3 linked regions of the Homo sapiens genome follow. The protein of the gene in region 3 interacts with the protein of the main gene of each other region in a biochemical or structural test. Each region holds a gene or a part of one and is shown on either strand. Other genes may lie near its edges.

Region 1 (7,033 bases), on a different chromosome or scaffold from region 3:
GAGCCCAGGTTGTGTCACGTACTCCAGCCTGTGCAACAGGGCAAGACTCCATCTCAAAAAAAAAAAAAAAATATATATATATATATATATAATATAAAGTAAGTGGCAGAGCTGCAACTCAAGTTCTTGTTTTTCTGCCACTAAGACCAGTGTGCTTTCTCCTGGCCCCTCTGGACCTTGCAGTTGAAAGCCTATGTGCTCTAGTGAGCCGAGACCACCCCCTTGGTGACTGTGTGTGTTCTCTGGCCTACACAGTGAGCCCCAGCAAGGAGATCAAGATCGTGTCTGCAGTGAGGAGAAGCAGCATGAGCAGCTGTGGCAGCAGCGGCTACTTCAGCAGCAGCCCCACCCTCAGCAGCAGCCCCCCTGTGCTCTGCAACCCCAAGTCCGGTGAGTGCCCAAAAGGTGGCCCCGCTCCTAAGACTGTGGGGACTTGGGCAGGTCCCTGGGAAGCAGAATCTGAGATAGCGGGAGACTAGTGTGTGGGTTCTAATAAGTTAGAGCATGCTCTTGGGGTCCACACGTGTTGAATGGAAGGGAAGGAAGAATTGGGCTGAAGGAGAAATTGGGTTGTAGCCCAGTCTCAATGAAGGCTATCATTGACCCAGTAAGACCTCTGGAGCTGGGATGGCCCTTCCAAGTTGCCTGGAGTTGTGTTGAGGGGGCTGGGCCTTTAGATCCACATGTTGGCCACTTATTAGGTATTGGCTGCCCCTGGGAGGAGGGCATGACCTTGGGCAAAGCAGGTGTCTTCAGAGAGATGGTCTCCAAGACAGCTGAGGGCTGTCACCATTAGCACTCTCGGAGCTGGGAGAAGTCCCTGAGCCCTGAAGGGTGTTTTGGGCAGTATGTGACAGTGCTCACAGCAGGGGAAACAGCACTTCCCCAGAATGCAGCCGATGCATAAGATCTGTTGGGGCCCAACACCCTTAAGGAAGAAGCATGGATGTGTGCAAACCCAGCTATCCCTGGAATTGACCCTGGGTGTCTTGTGGTTTCAAAATCTGCTCATCAACCTCCATGGCCTTTATATTCCAGGAAAAAAATCTAGGCACAAAATTGTTGGTGAACATGTACTTAGAAACAATCCTTCCTCCACCCAATCAGTTCATCAACCACCCAGGAACTGGTAATCCATTGAAACTACCCTTTCTCACCATCCCTTACCCACCTAATGTCCTCACTTGCCAGGATGAGGATGTGTGGTCCATCACTACAGTAACCGCCAGAGAACACTCTCAAACCCATTTGTTTAAGGCACTGTCCACCCCCAGTTCAGTTTGTCACCTTCGAGGAAGAGGCTCTGTTCCTTTTGTTCATGTTGTTTCCTCATCATCAGATCTTGGGGATACAAAGATGACAGGTCATAACCCCCAACTCAATGAAAACACCACCTCTTTGGAGAAAAAAACAAAACATTTCATGTTAGTAAGAATAAGCACTAATTGATGCAGTTCAAAAGGCTTTGAGAGAAAACTCTGTCATCTAATGGTATTATCTAGGAAGGTGGCTCTTTTTCCTGATCTAACTTTTTTTCTTTTTTTGCTGCCTTCTGGAGTGTTAGCAGCAGGAATAAATGTAACCTGTAAGTGAATGAAGAAGCTTGCTTCCATACTGTCCTGGCTGAAGAGTCGTTGAGTACTGGGTTTTTCAATTACTGGAGCTTGCTGCTAAAGTAGAATGAAAAAGGAGAACTGAATTCTTAGAAATGGGATGTTTGAAGCCTTTGTAGAAATCTGACAGGCATCCTCAAAGTTAAAAGCAAAAGATCTCAGTTTCAATAAAAGGGTCAGTGGTGCCATAACCATTTTACAAGTTTTTGATTGCTTATGATGGAGTATGAAAAAAGTGTTAATTACTGAAATTAGCAACAAAATCCATGTTCCCTGAGGTAGGTTAGCATGTTTCCTCTTTCTCCTTGCCTCTGGGTCAAAGGGAAGAGTTTACTGTTATGCAGGCAGAAGAAAAAGGTCTCGTTTCCTTTCGTGGGTCCCCAAGGACAAGAGCTGTCAGGACTGAGTTGTGGTTTGTAAATTCCACTTCTTACCCATAGTTTGACAAGCTTCTCTCTCACTCTTAAGAGGATTCCCAAGACCCAGTGAGTTCATCTGTGATTTTTTTTTCTCAAGCAGATGATCAGGCCTTCACAGTGATGCATTTAAAAATTAATTATCTGAAATACACCAGGATATGTTTTTTTAGTACTGTATATAAATGCCCTAAGCCAGACACAAAAAACAGTACTAAAGATATTGATGTTATCAGTATCATTGTGATAAGCAAATAAGCTTCCAAGGATATGAAAAGAAAAAAGTTTTCCCTAGGCCTCAAAGTTTCTATATTTTTCAACATAATAAAGAGAAGTGCATTAAAATGAATGGTCAGCTCTGCTGCCAAATAGTACAGTGTGATTCATGTATCCAAATTCATAAGCCCCCTGAGGGTTTATGGGGAGTGGAGAGAGAGTTACCTGACAGGGAATAAAAAAGATCTCAGTCCTCAAATACTGACCACTTTTCTTACCTCCCATCCATCTGCTGAGAGATTCTGTTTCCATCTTGATATTTGACCTACTCCCTCTTGTTTGGCGAACATAAATTAATTTTTGCTTTTATGAGATTTCTGAAAGCAAAGGTGATAAGATCAGCAACCTGTCACCTCAACAAGAAGCACTGGATTGCCTTTCACTGAGAGGGTGCTTCTCAGGCCAGAAGGCCGTTCATGTAACCAGTGGGCGAGGTCCAGCTGCCTGGTAGATCATCACGCCTTGCCCCACGCTGCCTTTCCTTGTCTGCTGCACACTCTTTCCAGGACTGGTACCTGGCCTCTGACTGTCACTAGCAAAGGGGATCGGAGGATGCCACCTCACCAGGTTAGGCCCCTTGGCTGGGGCCTTTTCTGTTTCTCTGTGGCACTTCAAGTTCACAATGTCTGCAGAGCTGGATTAGAATGGTCTCTGTCCCCTGACCCCCTGGCTACTTGGGGAGGATACGACAGCCCCTCTCCAGTTCTTAGTGAGCACAGGATGGATGGGGGGGTTCATTATCGGTGGGTTTTAGGCAGCCGCAAGTCAGGAATTGGCTGCTGTCTGCCATCTTGGTGGGCAACAGCAGTGAGCTGATGTGAACGGGTGTCTCAGGAGGACAGCATGCCACTATCTTCCTGAGCTTCTAGACCCTTTCTTTTGCTTGCAGGACAGCATGGCCCAGAGTAAATGTGGCACAGTAGCTGAGAGTGTGGGTGCTGGTGTCTAATGCCTGAGTTTGATTCTACTTCTGCCACCCATTCGCTCTGGGACCTTGGACACAATCAATTTAACTTTTCTAAGGTTGTTTTTGCAGTTATAAAATGGGGATAACAATGATCCTAACTCATTCATTCTTGTGATGATTAAGTGAGTTAATATATTCACCTCACATGGTGCCTCTCTAGCATATGTTGAGTACTCAGAAAAGTTCACTAGCATTATTACTCATGGCAGAAAGCAGTGGGTACATGCAGTCCTAGGTGTTAAGAAGGAAGTGAGGCTGGGCGGCTCATGCGTGTAATCCCAGCACTTTGGGAGGCTGAGGCAGGCAGATTGCCTGAGGTCACGAGTTCAAGACCAGCCTGGCCAACATGGTGAAACCCTGTCTCTATTAAAAATACAAAAATTAGCCAGATATGGTGTTGGGTGCCTGTAATCCCAGCTACTCAGGAGGCTGAGGCAGGAGAATTGCTTGAACCCAGGAGGCGGAGGTTGCAGTGAGCCGAGATCGCATCATTGCACTCCATCCTGGGTGACAAGGGCAAAACTCCGTCTTTAAAAAAAAAAAAAAATTGACCTGCCCCCTTATCCCCACCCCTGGCACTCTTGCTTTCCTTCTCTTTCTTTTTTTCCTTAGCTTTGTAAGGTAGGTTTAGGGTTATTTATGTTTGCTGCTATTTACTGTCTCCATTCAGCTAAAATATAAACTGTGAGGCAGGGATCTTTGCCACTTTTTCTCACTGATGGTCACCTACGAGATATCAATAAATAGCTGCTGAATGCATGGATAGAGGACTTGGAAGTGCTTATGTCTTGACATTGTGTTTGTCTGCCAGTGCTGAAGAGACCTGTCACCTCTGAGGAACTCCTTACTCCCGGGGCTCCGTATGCAAGGAAGACATTCACGGTAGGCTGATGGTCTGGCCTTTTTCTCCCGTGCTGCCCATTTTTCTGCACCGTGTCCATGTGTCAATGGGTAGCTTATAGACTGAAATGAAAACTACTTTTCTAATTTTCTTTTTGTTTTTAGCGTAATTATGATACTAGGCTTTCTTGACCTCAAGGCACTAAGGTGCATTAGGACTTCACATGCGTTATTATTAATATACCATTTAAAAATTTTTTGATGTGTTCTTTGTTAAAGAAAAGATTTCCATTATGCATTTATTCTAATTTAATTGCAAATTTCAAGATTGGCATCATTTGCACTTGCATTTACCTTAAAATCTAATAATTTTAGATTTTATTTCCCACCATTAGTCATTTAAATTATTATTAGATTTTATGGCAAATGGAAGTGCAAATGATGCCAATAATCCCTTCTGCATTAGGATTAATTCTAGAAATTATTTAAAACATTAGGGGAGTGTTAAGCTAGAGAAAGGAAACTGTGGGATAAACTTTTCTACCGTAGGCAGGGTGCTTCGACAATGTGTGCATGCCTTGAGGTACACGAGCCTCTGACTTGCTGTGAGCAGCTCCGGACCACCTGCCCCTTCTTGGAGGTCCTTTAGGTTCCTAATGCCTACGTTGGATTTCTTCAAATGGAATGAAAGTGCTCTTTTCAGCATCACCGCACCCACTCCCCTTCCTGTGTCTCCTTCTGTCAATCTCCTCAAATTCACGTTCATACCCTCTTCAAAACACTTCTCCTCCTTCATCTTCTAACTTTAGTGGCATTGCCTCAGGCTGGGGGAGAATTCTATCCACACTCAGTCATGCTGCAAACATTTGCTGAGGGCTATTTCACATTCTGAATGCTGAGGAGTTAATAGGAGAAAGGCGCTGACAACATGTCTGTACCAGAGGAAAAGATAAACTCCACCTTCGGAAGTGAAATTGAGTATAATATACAAATAACAGCAAACTGTAAAGTAACGGAAGTGCCTGAAAATCTTGAGCATTTCCACAAAAATTTTCATTTGCCTCCCTGTTTTTCCTCAGTCTCCAGCATTCAAGAGAGGTAGATTGTTATTTTGAAAGTATTTATTTTTGATTTTTAATTTAAATGCCAACATTGTTAGTAATTGATTGTGAATGTGTTTCAGCTGTGTTTTGGTTGGGATATGTGTGAAAGATGTGGCTAGGAGCTGTCCAGGGAATTAAACTGCCAGCTCTAATAATGATTTCTATAGAAAAGGCCTTCTCTAATTCCAAACAACTTTTGGATTAGAGTCTACTTGTACATTGTGAACTTTATGTACTTTTTCACTTCTTTTCCCCCCTTGGTGGAGAAAGGGGCATGGTGGAGCCCTTGGTGGAGGGCTCCCTTGGTGGAGGCTGGGCATGGTGGCTCACGCCTGTAATCCCAGCACTTTGGAGGCTGAGGCAGGTGGATCACCTGAGCTCAGGAGTTCGAGACCAGCCTGACCATCATGGTGAAACCCTGTCTCTACTAAAAATACACAAAATTAGCCAGGCATGGTGTTGCATGCCTGTAATCCCAGTTACTCAGGAGGCTGAGGCAGGAGAATCGCTTGAACCCGGGAGGTGGGGTTGCAGTGAGCTGAGATTGCACTACTGCACTCCAGCCTGGGTGACAGAGCAAGACTCTGTCTCAAAAAAAAAAAAAAAAAAGCCAGGTCTCTTTATTTCCCACCATTAGTAATTTCAATAATTATGCTAGACTTCAATGACGTTGCAGGATCAAGAGTGTATCATTTGGATACTGGGGAAAAGAACAAACTTAGAGCAGAAATTGTATCTGGAGAGACATTTCAACCACGTTACGACTTTTTCTAAACCTTCTATTGGAGTCTGACATTAAATTGTATAACAGCCTAAGAAAGAGAAAATCTTCCAGTTGTTTATTGAATCATGCCCTCATGGGAGCATCTTCTTTCTGCCAAACAGGTTAGATTTTTTTTACCACCTTTTCTACAGGGAGATGCCCGGGTTTGTGATAGAAGCAGTGTTCCAATCCCCTGGCAGGGAAGAGAGAAACGGAGGAAAATATGTCACAGTGTATACTTAATCCTGGGCTGGTTTTCTCTCCCTCAGAAGAATAAGCAAATTGCCGGAGACAGTCGGCTGCTTGCTAATTGTGGTTTTCCTCTCTAGATTGTTGGTGACGCGGTTGGCTGGGGTTTTGTGGTGCGAGGAAGTAAGCCATGCCACATCCAGGCTGTAGACCCCAGTGGCCCTGCAGCCGCAGCAGGAATGAAGGTACTAACGGGTCTTTCTCACCCTCTTTTATATCTGTCTTGGGTTCTTCATGCTAAATTGGCCATGATTCTTACTAGGGATCCAAACCCATCTTATTTTGTGTCCTTTTCTATTTCTGCCCTCTCTTTCTTGTTCTCCAAAGTCTTTAACCTTTCCCTGGGTCTTCCCTCTCCTCTAATAAACATTTAGAAGTGTCTAGCCAGGCGCGGTGGCTCACACCTGTAATTCCAGCACATTCAGAGGCCAAGGCAGACATATCACTTGAGGTCAGGAGTTCAAGACTAGCCTGGCCACCGTGGCGAAACCCTATCCCTACTAAAAATACAAAAATTAGCCGGGCGTGGTGGCACACACCTGTAATCCCAGCTACTCAGGAGGCTGAGGCAGGAGAATCGCTTGAACCCAGGAGGCAGAAGTTGTAGTGAGCCAAGATCGCACCACTGCACTCCAGCCTGGGTGACAAAGCGAGACTCTGTCTCTAAAACAAAACAAAACAAAACAACAACAACAACAACAAAACAACATTTAGCAGTGTCTAAATACCTCTAGCTTAATTTCATTATTTGGTGCCATGTGTACTTTTTCTCCCTAAGCGTTTTGGCTTCATTTTTGTCAAATTTC
Region 2 (7,033 bases), on a different chromosome or scaffold from region 3:
GATTGTTTTATAGCCAAATGTAACTCAAACCCGTAACACAGCAACTAGCCATCTCCAGTATCACTGATTCCCACCCCAAGAAGTTGAGGTAAGAGGGGAGAGACTGTCTCCTGTTTAAGAAAAACCCACCTACACCTCAGTGAAGCCGTGATGGTAAGGAGGCTGGCACCAGAGGGCAGGGATGAGTAGGCACTGAAACAGGTCTCTCTAGAATCAATGAAGTCTGCCCCAGCTCCTTGGATGAGGTGTTCTTTTGAAATTCCCACTTTTATGGAGTTAGATAAGGGGACAACCGGTGATGATTCATCACTCCCTGTCTCTAAAATTAAAACATGATAAACCCAGAAAGTTTTACCTTCAAAATCCACCAAGCTCCCTCCTGAGAAAATTCTATCCAGTCATGTCCATGCCAGCACCCACTCCCTTCTCCTAATGCCCAGGGCTTCCAGCCCCTCTCCTCACCCTTGGGTGGTCCATCCAACACTGATTTGATACTCTTTGACTCATAATATGACCATTTTTTAAAAATTAGAAAATAAAAGCTATCAATATCACAGCAACATAAGGAAGATACTCAGTGGACATGCTCCTCCCCCATCCTGTGGAGCCCACCTACCCCCACCCCCCTTCCCTGGGAAACCTACACTGCAACATTCCAGCACTGAGCCGGGGGTGGCCCAACAGATGCTGCCTCAAGTGCTTTCCTGACTGTGGCTCCTATACCAGCCAATGTCATGGAACTGGGGTGAGGAAGAACAGGGCCACACCTCCCACCAAATAGATATCGGTAGCCAGTGGTGGGTCTGGGAGATTTAGCTTATGTCAGGCAGCCAAGCCTGGGTCCAACGCTCTCACCAGGACCTCAGTTCTTGGCTTAAATAGCAGCAGCCCCAGTACCACAGCGCCTCCTGGGGGTGACAGAGCACCTAGCTTTCTGTCCGATAACTTATAACAGGTTTGCATTTTCTTACCCACTTCTTTTTTTTTTTTAAATTAAAAGCCGAGGTAGTCCCTGGGATAATAAAACCCTACCTAGAATGGCAGTATTTCAACCTAATGAAGCAGTAAAATAAGTCTCCAGGAGTTAGAAAAAAAAATAAAATAAAGTGATTGATGAAGTTGAATAAATTAAACATATGGATTATCCCACAAAGACCTTTCCTTCCCAGGTTGTCTTTGCTATTTGGCCAGCAGCATTTCTGTGTAACTTCTCTACTCCCCTCCGTCTCCTCTCCCCTCATGAGATGGCTGGAGCCCGATAAGGCCCCGGCTGGTTCATCCCACTGTGGCTCAGAGCAGCTTGACACGGTGCTCAGAACTGCATTGTGGCACAGTTCTGATATGGACGGAGGACGTCTAACAGGGACAGAAGAGGCGTAGCCAGCAAGATGCCCTGGGCTCCAACCTTGGGAGTGTGGGAGGTAGGTTTAAGGCATGGAAGTCCCAGGCCCCCTCTCCAAATGTCACACAGCTGTCCCCTTTGCTTAAGTTTCTCTGCAGCAAAGAGGGTAAAGGGGGATGGAGGGAAGCTTGGGCTGCTGCTGGCTGGTCCTGCCGCCCTCAGAGCTTCTTCAGACGACTGTACATCTCCCTCTTGCTCTTCTCCCCTGCCCAGGTCCGGCTCTTGGTGCGGAACTTCTTCAGGTCTTCTTTAAAGTCCTCGTGGTGCATGGGCCGGTAGCTAGGGGGCTCACAGTAAGACTGAGGGGACAGGAGAGAATAAGGTTAGGGTACACCTGCCTCACACCCACAACCTGGTTTCCTCTCTGCCTAGGGCTACAAGGCTGAAAGCGGCCAGGCAGACCTAGGGAGCCAGTTCTACAGGGGCTTTCTTTGGGTTCAGCAGATACCCACCTTGTCCCCCGACCCCTGGAAAGAAAGTCATGACCACCAGACAGATCCATTAGTCTACCACTGGGGGCAGGGGAGGAGAGATGCTCTCCACAACCCCAGTCTTACCTGGCATTTCATAAAGAACTCCTTGTATCCCCCCTTCAGGACATACAGCTCAGGGTAGTGGAGTTTGGGGTATTCATTACCCAGGCGATCTCTCTCTCTCACATACCGGCACCTAGTCAGGGGAAGGAAGGCCAAAGCAGGGTTAGCTTTTCCAGCACAGCAACAAGGCAACGCAGTCAAAGCAGCAGTTGTGGTCTAAGTCCCCCTTATACACATCTTCCCAACTTGACATTTATTCTTAGAAACAATCAGTGCTGAGTTGCAAGTTCCTGGCCACATGAGCAGCACTCACAGCCAGTGCCAGTAGATGGTCTCTTCCCCAATTTTCCTTTCTCCAACAATCCTAGCATCTGAGTCCTGCCCAGCACCTTCACCACCACAGTTTGTGGCAAGTTTTCACTATATGAGCCAGCTTCCCCTTGCTTTCTCCACCCCAGCCTTCTCTTCAGCCAGGCTCCCTCACTCACCTCCTTCTACATAAGTGGGCTTGTTTCTTTCTGTGGCTTTTAAAGAGGCTGAACTTGCTCCTGCCTCGGGGCCCTGTTTCTATCCTCTACTTGGACTGAATGGTCTTCAATATCCAGCCAATGGCTGCTTACTGCCTCGCCCTTGGTGAAAAAGCCCGAGGCCCCAAGTCCTTCAGAGGCCTACAGCTCTACAGGCCCCTACTGCTGCTCTGCCCCTTGTTCACCCCACGCCAGCCCCTGCAGCCCCACTACTGTTCCTCCAGCCTGCCTGGGAGCTCCACCACTGGCCTTATTTTCCTCTGAAGCACCTTCTTTTTTCTGAGACAGAATCTCACTCTGTCACCAGGCTGGAGTGCAAGGGCGTGACCTCAGGCTCACTGCAATCTCCGTCTCCCGGGTTCAAGCAATTCTCCTGCCTCAGCCTCCCAAATAGCTGGGACTACAGGCGCGTGCCACCGCCCAGCTGATTTTTGTATGTTTAGTAGAGATGGGGCTTCACCATGTTGGCCAGGATGGTCTCGACCTCTTGACCTTGTGATCCACCTGCCTTGGCCTCCCAAAGTGTTGGGATTACAGGAGTTAGCCACCGCACCCAGTCACCTTTTTTTTTTTTTTTTTGAGATGGAGTCTCACTCTGTCGCCCAGGCTGGAGTGCACTGGCGCGATCTCGGCTCACTGCAACCTCTGCCTCCTGGGTTCAAGGGATGCTCCTGCCTCAGCCTCCAAAGTAGCTGGGATTACAGGTGTCCGCCACCACGCCTGGCTAATTTTTGTATTTTTAGTAGAGACGGGATTTCACCATGTTGGCCAGGCTGGTCTCGATCTCCTGTCCACTCCGAAATGTAAGTTCCATGAAGGCAGAGATTTTTTGGTCTGTTTTGTTCACTGCTCTTCTCCCTCAGTATCTAGAAAGGTATCTGGTACACAAGAGCCAAGAGTATCTGCTGATTTTCTCTTGAAGCTCAGTGGTTTGGGGCCTTTGTTAGCTGCTCATGAGGGATGGGCAGCAGCTTCCTCTGCAGCACGTAGCTTAAACCATTTGCCTGTGGTTAAAAGGAGTTTGGCTGGGCGCGGTGGCTCACACCTGTAATTCCAGCACTTTGGGAGGCTGAGGCGGTGGATCACGAGGTCAGGAGTTCGAGACCAGCCTGGCCAAGATAGTGAAACCCTGTGTCTACTAAAACTACAAAAAATTAGCTGGGCGTGGTGGCAGGTGCCTGTAATCCCAGCTACTTGGGAGGCTGAGGCAGAGAAATGCTTGAACCCGGGAGGAGGAGGCTGCAGTGAGCCGAGATTGTGCCACTGCATTCCAGCCTGGGCGAAAGGGCGAGATTCCAACTCAAAAAAAAAAAAAAAAAAAAAAAAGAGTTCACCTGTGAATCCCAAATCTTTCCCCAGTGGAACAACAGAAAGCCAGTGATGGCGAAACTCAAGTGGGGAACGAAGTGTAAGGGGTATCTGTAGATGGTGATATAAACATGCAGCTTGCAAATACAGAATACAGAGATGGGGCGTTTTCTGTATATCTAGGTGAAGTTTCAATATGGTATAATAATGTCCTTTATATTAGAGGTGTTAAAGAGGAAGATGGGGAAATGAGAGATTAAGAGAATAGCATCTTTTGGGCTGGGCATGGCGGCTCACACCTGTAATCCAAGCACTTTGGGAGGCCAGGATTGCCTGAGCCCAGGAGTTTGAGACCAGCCTGGGCAACACAGTGAGACCCTGTCTCTATAAAAAATACAAAAATTAGCCAGGCATGGTGATGCATGTTTGTGGTCCTAGCTTCCTGGGAGGCTGAGGTGGGAGAATCACTTGAGCCTGGGAGGCAGAGGCTACAGTGAGCTGTGCTCCTGCCACTGTACTCCAGCCTGGACAACAGAGACTGACCCTGACTCAAAAATAAAAAAAAAAGAGAGCAGCATCTTTTGTGGGTTTAAAAACAATTTACATGTGTGTGTATGTGTGTCCAGATTAGTTTGTTTCAGGCCTATAATCCCAGCACTTTGGGAGGCTGAGGCGGGTAGATCACTTGAGGTCAGGAGTTCGAGACCAGCCTGGCCAATGTAGCAAAACCCCGTCTCTACTAAAAATACAAACATTAGCTTGGCATGGTGGCATGCACCCGTAGTCCCAGCTACTTGGGAGCCTGAGGCAGGAGAATTGCTTGAACCCGGGAGGTGGAGGTTGCAGTGATCCGAGATCGCACCACTGCACTCCAGTCTGGGTGGCAGAGCAAGACTACATCTCAAACAAACAAACAAAAAAACTGCTGAGTGAATAATTCCATTCATGAATGAGCATCCTTTGGAGACAGATGTTTGAAGGACTTATGAGATGACAGTCAAAAGTGTCAAGTTGTACTGTAGTTGCCTGTGTGTAGAGCATGTACATACAAATGTGACAAAATGTTAAAAATTAATAAAATCAGGTGAAGTGTGTGCAAGTATAACCTTTGTGTGTGTGTGTGTGTGTGTGTGTGTGTGTGAGAGAGAGACAGAATCTCACTCTGTCACCTAGGCTGGAGTACAGTGGCATGATCATGGCTCACCACAGCCTCGACCTGCTGGGCTCAAACGATCCTCCCACCTCCTATTTTTTGTAGAGGTGTGGTCCCACTGTGTTACCCAGGTTGGTCTGGTCTGAAACTCCCGAGCAAGTGATCCTCCTGCCTCGGCCTCCCAAAGTGTTGGGATTACAGGTGCCACTGTGCCCAGCCATAACCTCACCTCTTCTTGAGCTTTAAAATGGTTCAGGTCAGGCGCAGTGGCTCACGCCTGTAATCCAAGCACTTTGGGAGGCCGAGACGGGCAGATCGCAAGGTCAGGAGATGGAGACCATCCTGGCTAAAATGGTGAAACCCTGTCTCTACTAAAAATACAAAAAAATTAGCCAGGCGTGATGGTGGGCACCTGTAGTCCCAGCTACTCGGGAGGCTGAGGCAGGAGAATGGCATGAACCCAGGAGGCGGAGCTTGCAGTAAGTCGAGATTGTGCCACTGCACTCCAGCCTGGGTGACAGAGCGAGACTCCGTCTCAAAAAAAAAAAAAGGTTCAAAGGGGTGGGCACAGTGGCTCATGCCTGCAATCCTAGCACTTTGGAGGCCAAGGAGAGAGGATTGCTTGAGGCCAGGAGTTTGAGACCAACCTGGCCAATATATTAAGACCCCATCTCAAAATTTGAAATTTCTGCTGGGCGTGGTGGCTCACACCTGTAATCCCAGCACTTTGGGAGGTCAAGGCGGGTGGATCACCTGAGGTCAGGAGTTCAAGACCAGCCCGGCCAACATGGTGAAACCCCCATCTCTACTACAAATACAAAAATTAGCCGGGTGTGGTGGTGCACGCCTGTTATCCCAGCTACTCAGGAGGCTGAGGCAGGAGAATCGCTTGAACCCAGGAGGTGGAGGTTGCAGTGAGCCGAGATCATGCCACTGCATTCCAGTCTGGGTGAAAACAGTGTGCCTCCGCCTCAAAAAAAAAAAAAAAAAAGAAAGAAAGAAAGAAAGAAAAAGCCAGGTGCAGTGGCTCACGCCTGTAATCCCACTACTTTGGGAGGCTGAGGCAGGCGGATCACCTAAGGTCGGGAGTTCAAGACCAGCCTGACCAACATGTAGAAACCCTGCCTCTACTAAAAATACAAAATTAGCCGGGCGTGATGGCGCATGCCTGTAATCCCAGCTACTTGGGAGGCTGAGGCAGGAGAACTGCTTGAACCTGGGAGGCAGAGGTTGCAGTGAGAAGAGATTGTGCCACTGCACTCCAGCCTGGGCAACAAGAGCAAAACTCCGTCAAAAAAAAAAAATTGAAATTTTTTAATTTAAAAATGTTTTTTAAAATAAATTGGTTCAAAATAAAAAGGTGGCATAAGAACGTGGTCCTGCAGAAGTCTCCCTTGGACCATCCTAGTTAAGCTGCACTCTCTGTCCTACCTCTCTGCCTGTCCTCCTAGCATTTATACGGATCCCCACTTGGATCTCTGCTGCAGTAGGGTCCTTGTTGGTCCTGCTCGCTGTGGTATTTTTACTGTACTGTGTTTTACTGTAGTTACATTTTTATTGTCAGTGCCTGACAAACAGCAGGCTTGCAATCCTTTTAGAATGGACACAGATGACTGATGGGCAGCTCTTTGGCCCCCTTTTTTCTTTTCACCCTGAAATTGGTAATAATATCAAGTGTTTCAAAGCATCATATCATATGAGGTTTTACAGAATGAGAACTTCACACTTTTCTGGCATTTGCATAAGGAACGGTCACTTTGTACTTGAAGGAGGTCACATGAGAACAGTAGCCCCACAGATCAGACTAAGGACAGTCGGGGAGACTGGAAGAGCCAAAGTTCACCTCAGGATAAAATTACATATGAAAATGGCTTGTTATGTGCCAGAGGTTGCTTGATATGCTAAAATATGCTCCAAGTGCAAGCCACAAACCACCATGTCCCACAAAAGCATCATGGAGCCTGTGCCCCAGAACCCAGTTCCGTGCAGCACTCACATGCGGGGACCTCTCTCAGAAGAAAACTCGCAGTGAAACACAACAATGACACGCTTGCCATCAGTAGGTACAATGGGCTTCTTCAATAAGAAGTCTTCAACCTCTTCTTCC
Region 3 (4,682 bases):
TCTGTTTTCACACAGGACCCATTAAAGTTGCGGTATTTAACGTATCTGCCAATACCAGGATGAGCAACAACAGTAACAATCAAACTACTGCCCAGTTTCCCTGGACTAGCCGAGGAGCAGGGCTTTGAGACTCCTGTTGGGACACAGTTGGTCTGCAGTCGGCCCAGGACGGTCTACTCAGCACAACTGACTGCTTCAGTGCTGCTATCAGAAGATGTCTTCTATCTTTTGTGAATGATTGGAACTTTTAAACCTCCCCTCCTCTCCTCCTTTCACCTCTGCACCTAGTTTTTTCCCATTGGTTCCAGACAAAGGTGACTTATAAATATATTTAGTGTTTTGCCAGAATCTCTCTTGCTTTGCCATTAAGCAGAAGAACTAGTTTCCCTGTATAGCCTGCTGGGAGAGACCCACTTCTAGGGTATGGGGGATGCAGCTTCAAGCCCAGTGCCCAGTGTCTCCCTGTTAACTGCAGGAATGCCAAGCACCTGGCCAGAGCAGCCCAGCCCCAATATGCTTAGGAGGAGACAGAGTTCCCTCTGTATAGCCTCTGGGACAAGAAAAAGAAAACACAAGAATGTATACACTGGAAGATTTGGGCCTCCTGCCTGCCTTCTCTTTGTTTCTGTTCCTCTTCCCATCTACTCCCCTACGCCCCTTCAACCTTTTTTCTCTGTCTGCTTCACCTGAGAAGAAAGTGTACGAAGAGAGTGTCCTCCTCTCACATGAGCCAGATCAGCCAGAAAATGCAACACTTGGAAGAGTTAAATGCTGTTCAGTGAAGATTTCAGCCCCAGGCCTTTGCTGCAAGTGACCCTGTGGCAACAGTGGATTCTCAGACATGATACTCTCATCATATTTGCAACTCTTCTCTCTCTTTCTTCCCCACACCCAAGAGGAGGATTGGTGGTAGGGGGCAGGCAGAGGGGGTGGGGAGAAGTTTCCTGGGCTCCATCAATGGCTGCATCTTTTCTGGACTCAGCAGTCTCCTTGATTCCATGTAGAGTGTGGAAAGGAGTTGCTGATTGCATTTCCTCTCATTAACAATTGGGTGTGTAATAAAAAGCATTGTACTTCATCTTAAATCACTGGTAAGGCTCAGCCTACAGAAAGATTTGAAATGGCCAGAGCCAATCGCTTGGTGCATTCTGCGTAATGGTTTCCATCTCCGATTTCCTCATCAGGGCCTGTGAATACCCAGGTGCCTGTATCTTTGCCAAGACCGTGATCAAGGTAGCTTAAGAGAGATGGTCAGGAGAAAACACTGTTTTTGTTTTTTTTGTTGTTTTGTTTTGTTTTGGCCAGTTAAATATCATCTCTCAAATATTGATCTCACCGTGTCAACCTTGCACTGCACAACCTTCCTTCTGCTTCTCCCACACCCAGTATTTGCAGAAGGGCAAAGCTGCTTAAGAGAGAGGATCAGGGTGAAGTTTGGCACACAGGGTTTATTAATGGGGCAAAAACTGCCTTTTCTTCCTCCTCCTGACCTTATTTTGCTCTTCACTCTCCCCAGCCAATAAAGCGTCTGTGGCGATTGGTGAACAGCATAAACAGCTGGACCTCAGCAAGGGTCAGGCAAACCCAGTCACTCGGAAGGCAGCTGTGTGAGCTGCCAAGCTAGTGGGCTTCAGGTGCAAGGGTACCTGTGCCACACCAACCTGGGAGCACACAGAATACTATTAATGTGCACCCAGCTGGTCTCCCCAGGCAAGAAGGTATCCTCTTCCCAAGGTGTACCCACTGAATGTTGTTACTACATATTGAGAGTCATTTTATGCATATGCATTCTACCTTTCCTGCTTTATGAGTATTTTTAAGCTTTTAGTTCAAGGTTATATTCAGAAAATATTTCCCAGTATAATGATACATCGTAGCCTAAGAAATATTTTCTCAATGTAATTCCCTTCCCAGCTACCCAAATGCTACAGAGAAATGTTTTCTACTTGGCCACTATCAGGGTTCGTCATCTATTGTGTTGACTATTAATGGCTTTTTGATTGGGTAAGGATTTTGCTATAGATGAAGGTAGAGGGCTGTCAGCCCTGAAAAACACACAGGTCAGACATTTAAAAGGCATGGGTTTCGAGCTGTCTCAAAATATTGCCCAATAGCCATAATTTTACCAGCCTTTCTGTCATATGCTGCTATTACAAAGTGGAAGCTGTTGAATGTTTATTGGTGCCCAGGGTTTTGCTCTCCAATCTAGGTTCAGTTGAAGGAATATTGTTTCTAAGACTGTTTTGAGACATGTCCAGTACATCACAAAGGAGATCGGGGCGACCCCTGCAGATGTGGAGCCATTAGCCCAGTTGAGGATATTCTCCAAGTTGTCCTCTCTCCTGCTGATGGAAATGGGAATGAAGTTAAGTGGTCTGAAAAACTTGAATCGTTCACATTTCTCAGCTCTGGGGGTCATTTACCAGTTTGTTGTAGAAGAAATAATCAGGTAAGTTAAAAGTTCATTTCCAGAGAAGGTAAACCCCACTTACCATCTCTGCATGATTTCAGTGGGAATTGATTATCACTAATCCCCAACTGGGCTAGAATAAATGTAAAGTTTGACCTTTTTAAAACGAAAAGAGAGACAAAGTCTCAGCACATTCCAAGGAGTGGTAGAAACAGAGCTGAAGGTGTCCCCATTGTAGATTAGTCTCTTCTCACTAAAATTTACTTTCCAACGTAGGGCCTAAAGGAAACCTTTCTTAAAGACAGGCTGAAACCCCTTCAAAGGCAGATGAGGAGGTACAGACACGTGACCTTTTGGTGCACACTGGAGCTACTTGGACAAGACCAGCATGCCTTGCTGCACGTGTGTGTATTTCACTGCTGAGAACATCCTTTAACTTGGTGTGCAATTTGAAAGGATGTGAATCATGGATGGAAGGCCATTTGTACATGTCCCTTGGCAAAATTCTTTCTGGTGTCTCCTAACTTCAGAGACAGGGACTCTTTTTGGATCTCTATTGACAAGTAATAAAAGTCTGGCCCTCATAACTTGTTTCCGAACTAGAAAAGTCTGTGAGACCCCTACATCATTCTGGTTTTTTTGCTTGAGTAAGAACAATCCTTTTTTATTTTTCTTCTGTACAGTCTAAAGCTACAGAGAAAAAAAAATGCACTCTTCCCTTGCCGGCTCCTGGTACCATTGGTCTGAACAGCTGTAGTTGGTCTACTCCTTACTTAGCACTTGATTGTGTGGGGAAACAAAGGTGGGAGGGGTGGGGAATACTGGAAATAATCAGGGCAATTTTTTTCTTTCCCATAATTGGACTAGATACCTTGGTACTGTTGACCTTCTCAGCATCTCCCTTTTGCCTTAGATGGCAACACCCTCCAGTCTGTAGCAGAGCAGTCCAACCCAGATTAGTGCAGCCCGGAGGCTTAGGGTGCAGCCTCCCTGGTCTTCCTCCACACAGTTGTTCACCAACAGACCAGACCTCCTTTAACCACAGTGTCAACATAGTATCGGAAAGAGAGCCATTTCTTAGGGGAATAAAACAGTTTCGCTTCTTTAGCTCATCTGTGGTGTCAGAATCCTTGGAGCTGAAGAGAGAAATCAAAAGAGCATGATGATGGCTGCCTGGTTTCAGGTGGAACTTAATGCATTGATCTTTAGAAGCTCCTTCTGTTGGAAGTTGAGTACCTGTGATCTAAAATGTCCTGGAGGCAGATGACATCTAAAATATGTGCTTTCCAACCAGCACAGCTGGCGCTCTTAGCTCCTGATTGGTTGTGTGTTTTATTAAGGATCAGTGCAGTTAAGTCGTATTTTAAAGTGTTACCTCCCCTCCTAACCCTTCCCCTTCTTGGACACTGAAGGAAAAGGCCAACTAGGGTGTTAGCCCTCTGGGCACCAAGGAAACTAACAGCTTTCTCAAAGCGGTGACCACTCAGGCCAGCCCAGACAAATCTGAGGGATGGCCAGTGCACTCCAATGATGGGACAGGCCTAACAACACATGTAAGCTTCCCCGAGAGCTTTCAGCTGGTTCACCTCTTTGTTCTCTAGACTCTTAAGTACTGACTGCTTTGACTTTTGTGATTATGTTATGGTGATGTGTAGTCAGTGTACCAATATGTTCACAACCTAGGATCATGATAATGGAGTGTGTTTTGGGTTTTTTTTAACTGTTCAGAAAAAAAGTAAATTACAAATATAAGATTAAAGTGAATTTTCTAAGCGTCTTGTCTCCTTGCCCCAGCATCCAGAAGGGCAGTACACTTTTCAGTATACAGACTGAGGGAGTGCAGAGATAGAATACCTTTGCAGATAATCTGACATGAGAAAACAAGATTGAGAGAAAGCAGGGCTGGATGCTGTGGATGAGTGTGGGGTCCCTGGCTTACGCCTACTGTTCCATGTTGAGTTAAATTGAAGCCAAAGTCATGTCTCATTTGTGCATTGGTCACCTTAGCCAACCACAGCCCAACCTGAATGCAGAATTTACATTTTTCTCTGCCCCTCAGCTGTGAAAAGACTTGAGTTTCCCCTACATCCCATTTGATCAGTTTATAGGCAAGCAAGCTCACATCTGGGAGCAATTTCCAGAGGGGCTCCAACAAGCTGTAAGAATGAAGGCACCCTTGACTATCTGGGATATGACATTGCAGTTCTTGAGTGAAACCCCCCTTCCCTCCTTCAGCCAAACCTGGAGAGGTACAAGGTTGCAGGCAGTGGCC

What was found. The genes of interacting proteins can lie anywhere in the genome.
Region 1: of the proteins of BTRC (region 3) and DEPTOR, one has a biochemical effect on the other in vitro, tested with the Homo sapiens proteins (3 studies listed by BioGRID, with this or other methods).
Region 2: of the proteins of BTRC (region 3) and CDC25A, one has a biochemical effect on the other in vitro, tested with the Homo sapiens proteins (3 studies listed by BioGRID and IntAct, with this or other methods).

Annotation. Positions count from the first base shown.
Region 1 is NC_000008.11:120,002,722-120,009,754, forward strand, and holds part of DEPTOR (DEP domain-containing mTOR-interacting protein), read left to right. Parts: intron 1-255; coding exon 256-390; intron 391-4,083; coding exon 4,084-4,154; intron 4,155-6,307; coding exon 6,308-6,412; intron 6,413-7,033. UniProt on the Homo sapiens protein: Negative regulator of the mTORC1 and mTORC2 complexes: inhibits the protein kinase activity of MTOR, thereby inactivating both complexes. DEPTOR inhibits mTORC1 and mTORC2 to induce autophagy.
Region 2 is NC_000003.12:48,157,385-48,164,417, forward strand, and holds part of CDC25A (M-phase inducer phosphatase 1), read right to left. Parts: coding exon 6,923-7,033; intron 2,072-6,922; coding exon 1,960-2,071; intron 1,702-1,959; coding exon 1,561-1,701; 3' UTR 1-1,560. UniProt on the Homo sapiens protein: Tyrosine protein phosphatase which functions as a dosage-dependent inducer of mitotic progression. Directly dephosphorylates CDK1 and stimulates its kinase activity. Also dephosphorylates CDK2 in complex with cyclin-E, in vitro.
Region 3 is NC_000010.11:101,553,140-101,557,821, forward strand, and holds the end of BTRC (F-box/WD repeat-containing protein 1A), read left to right. Parts: intron 1-15; 3' UTR 16-4,174; downstream 4,175-4,682. UniProt on the Homo sapiens protein: Substrate recognition component of a SCF (SKP1-CUL1-F-box protein) E3 ubiquitin-protein ligase complex which mediates the ubiquitination and subsequent proteasomal degradation of target proteins. Recognizes and binds to phosphorylated target proteins.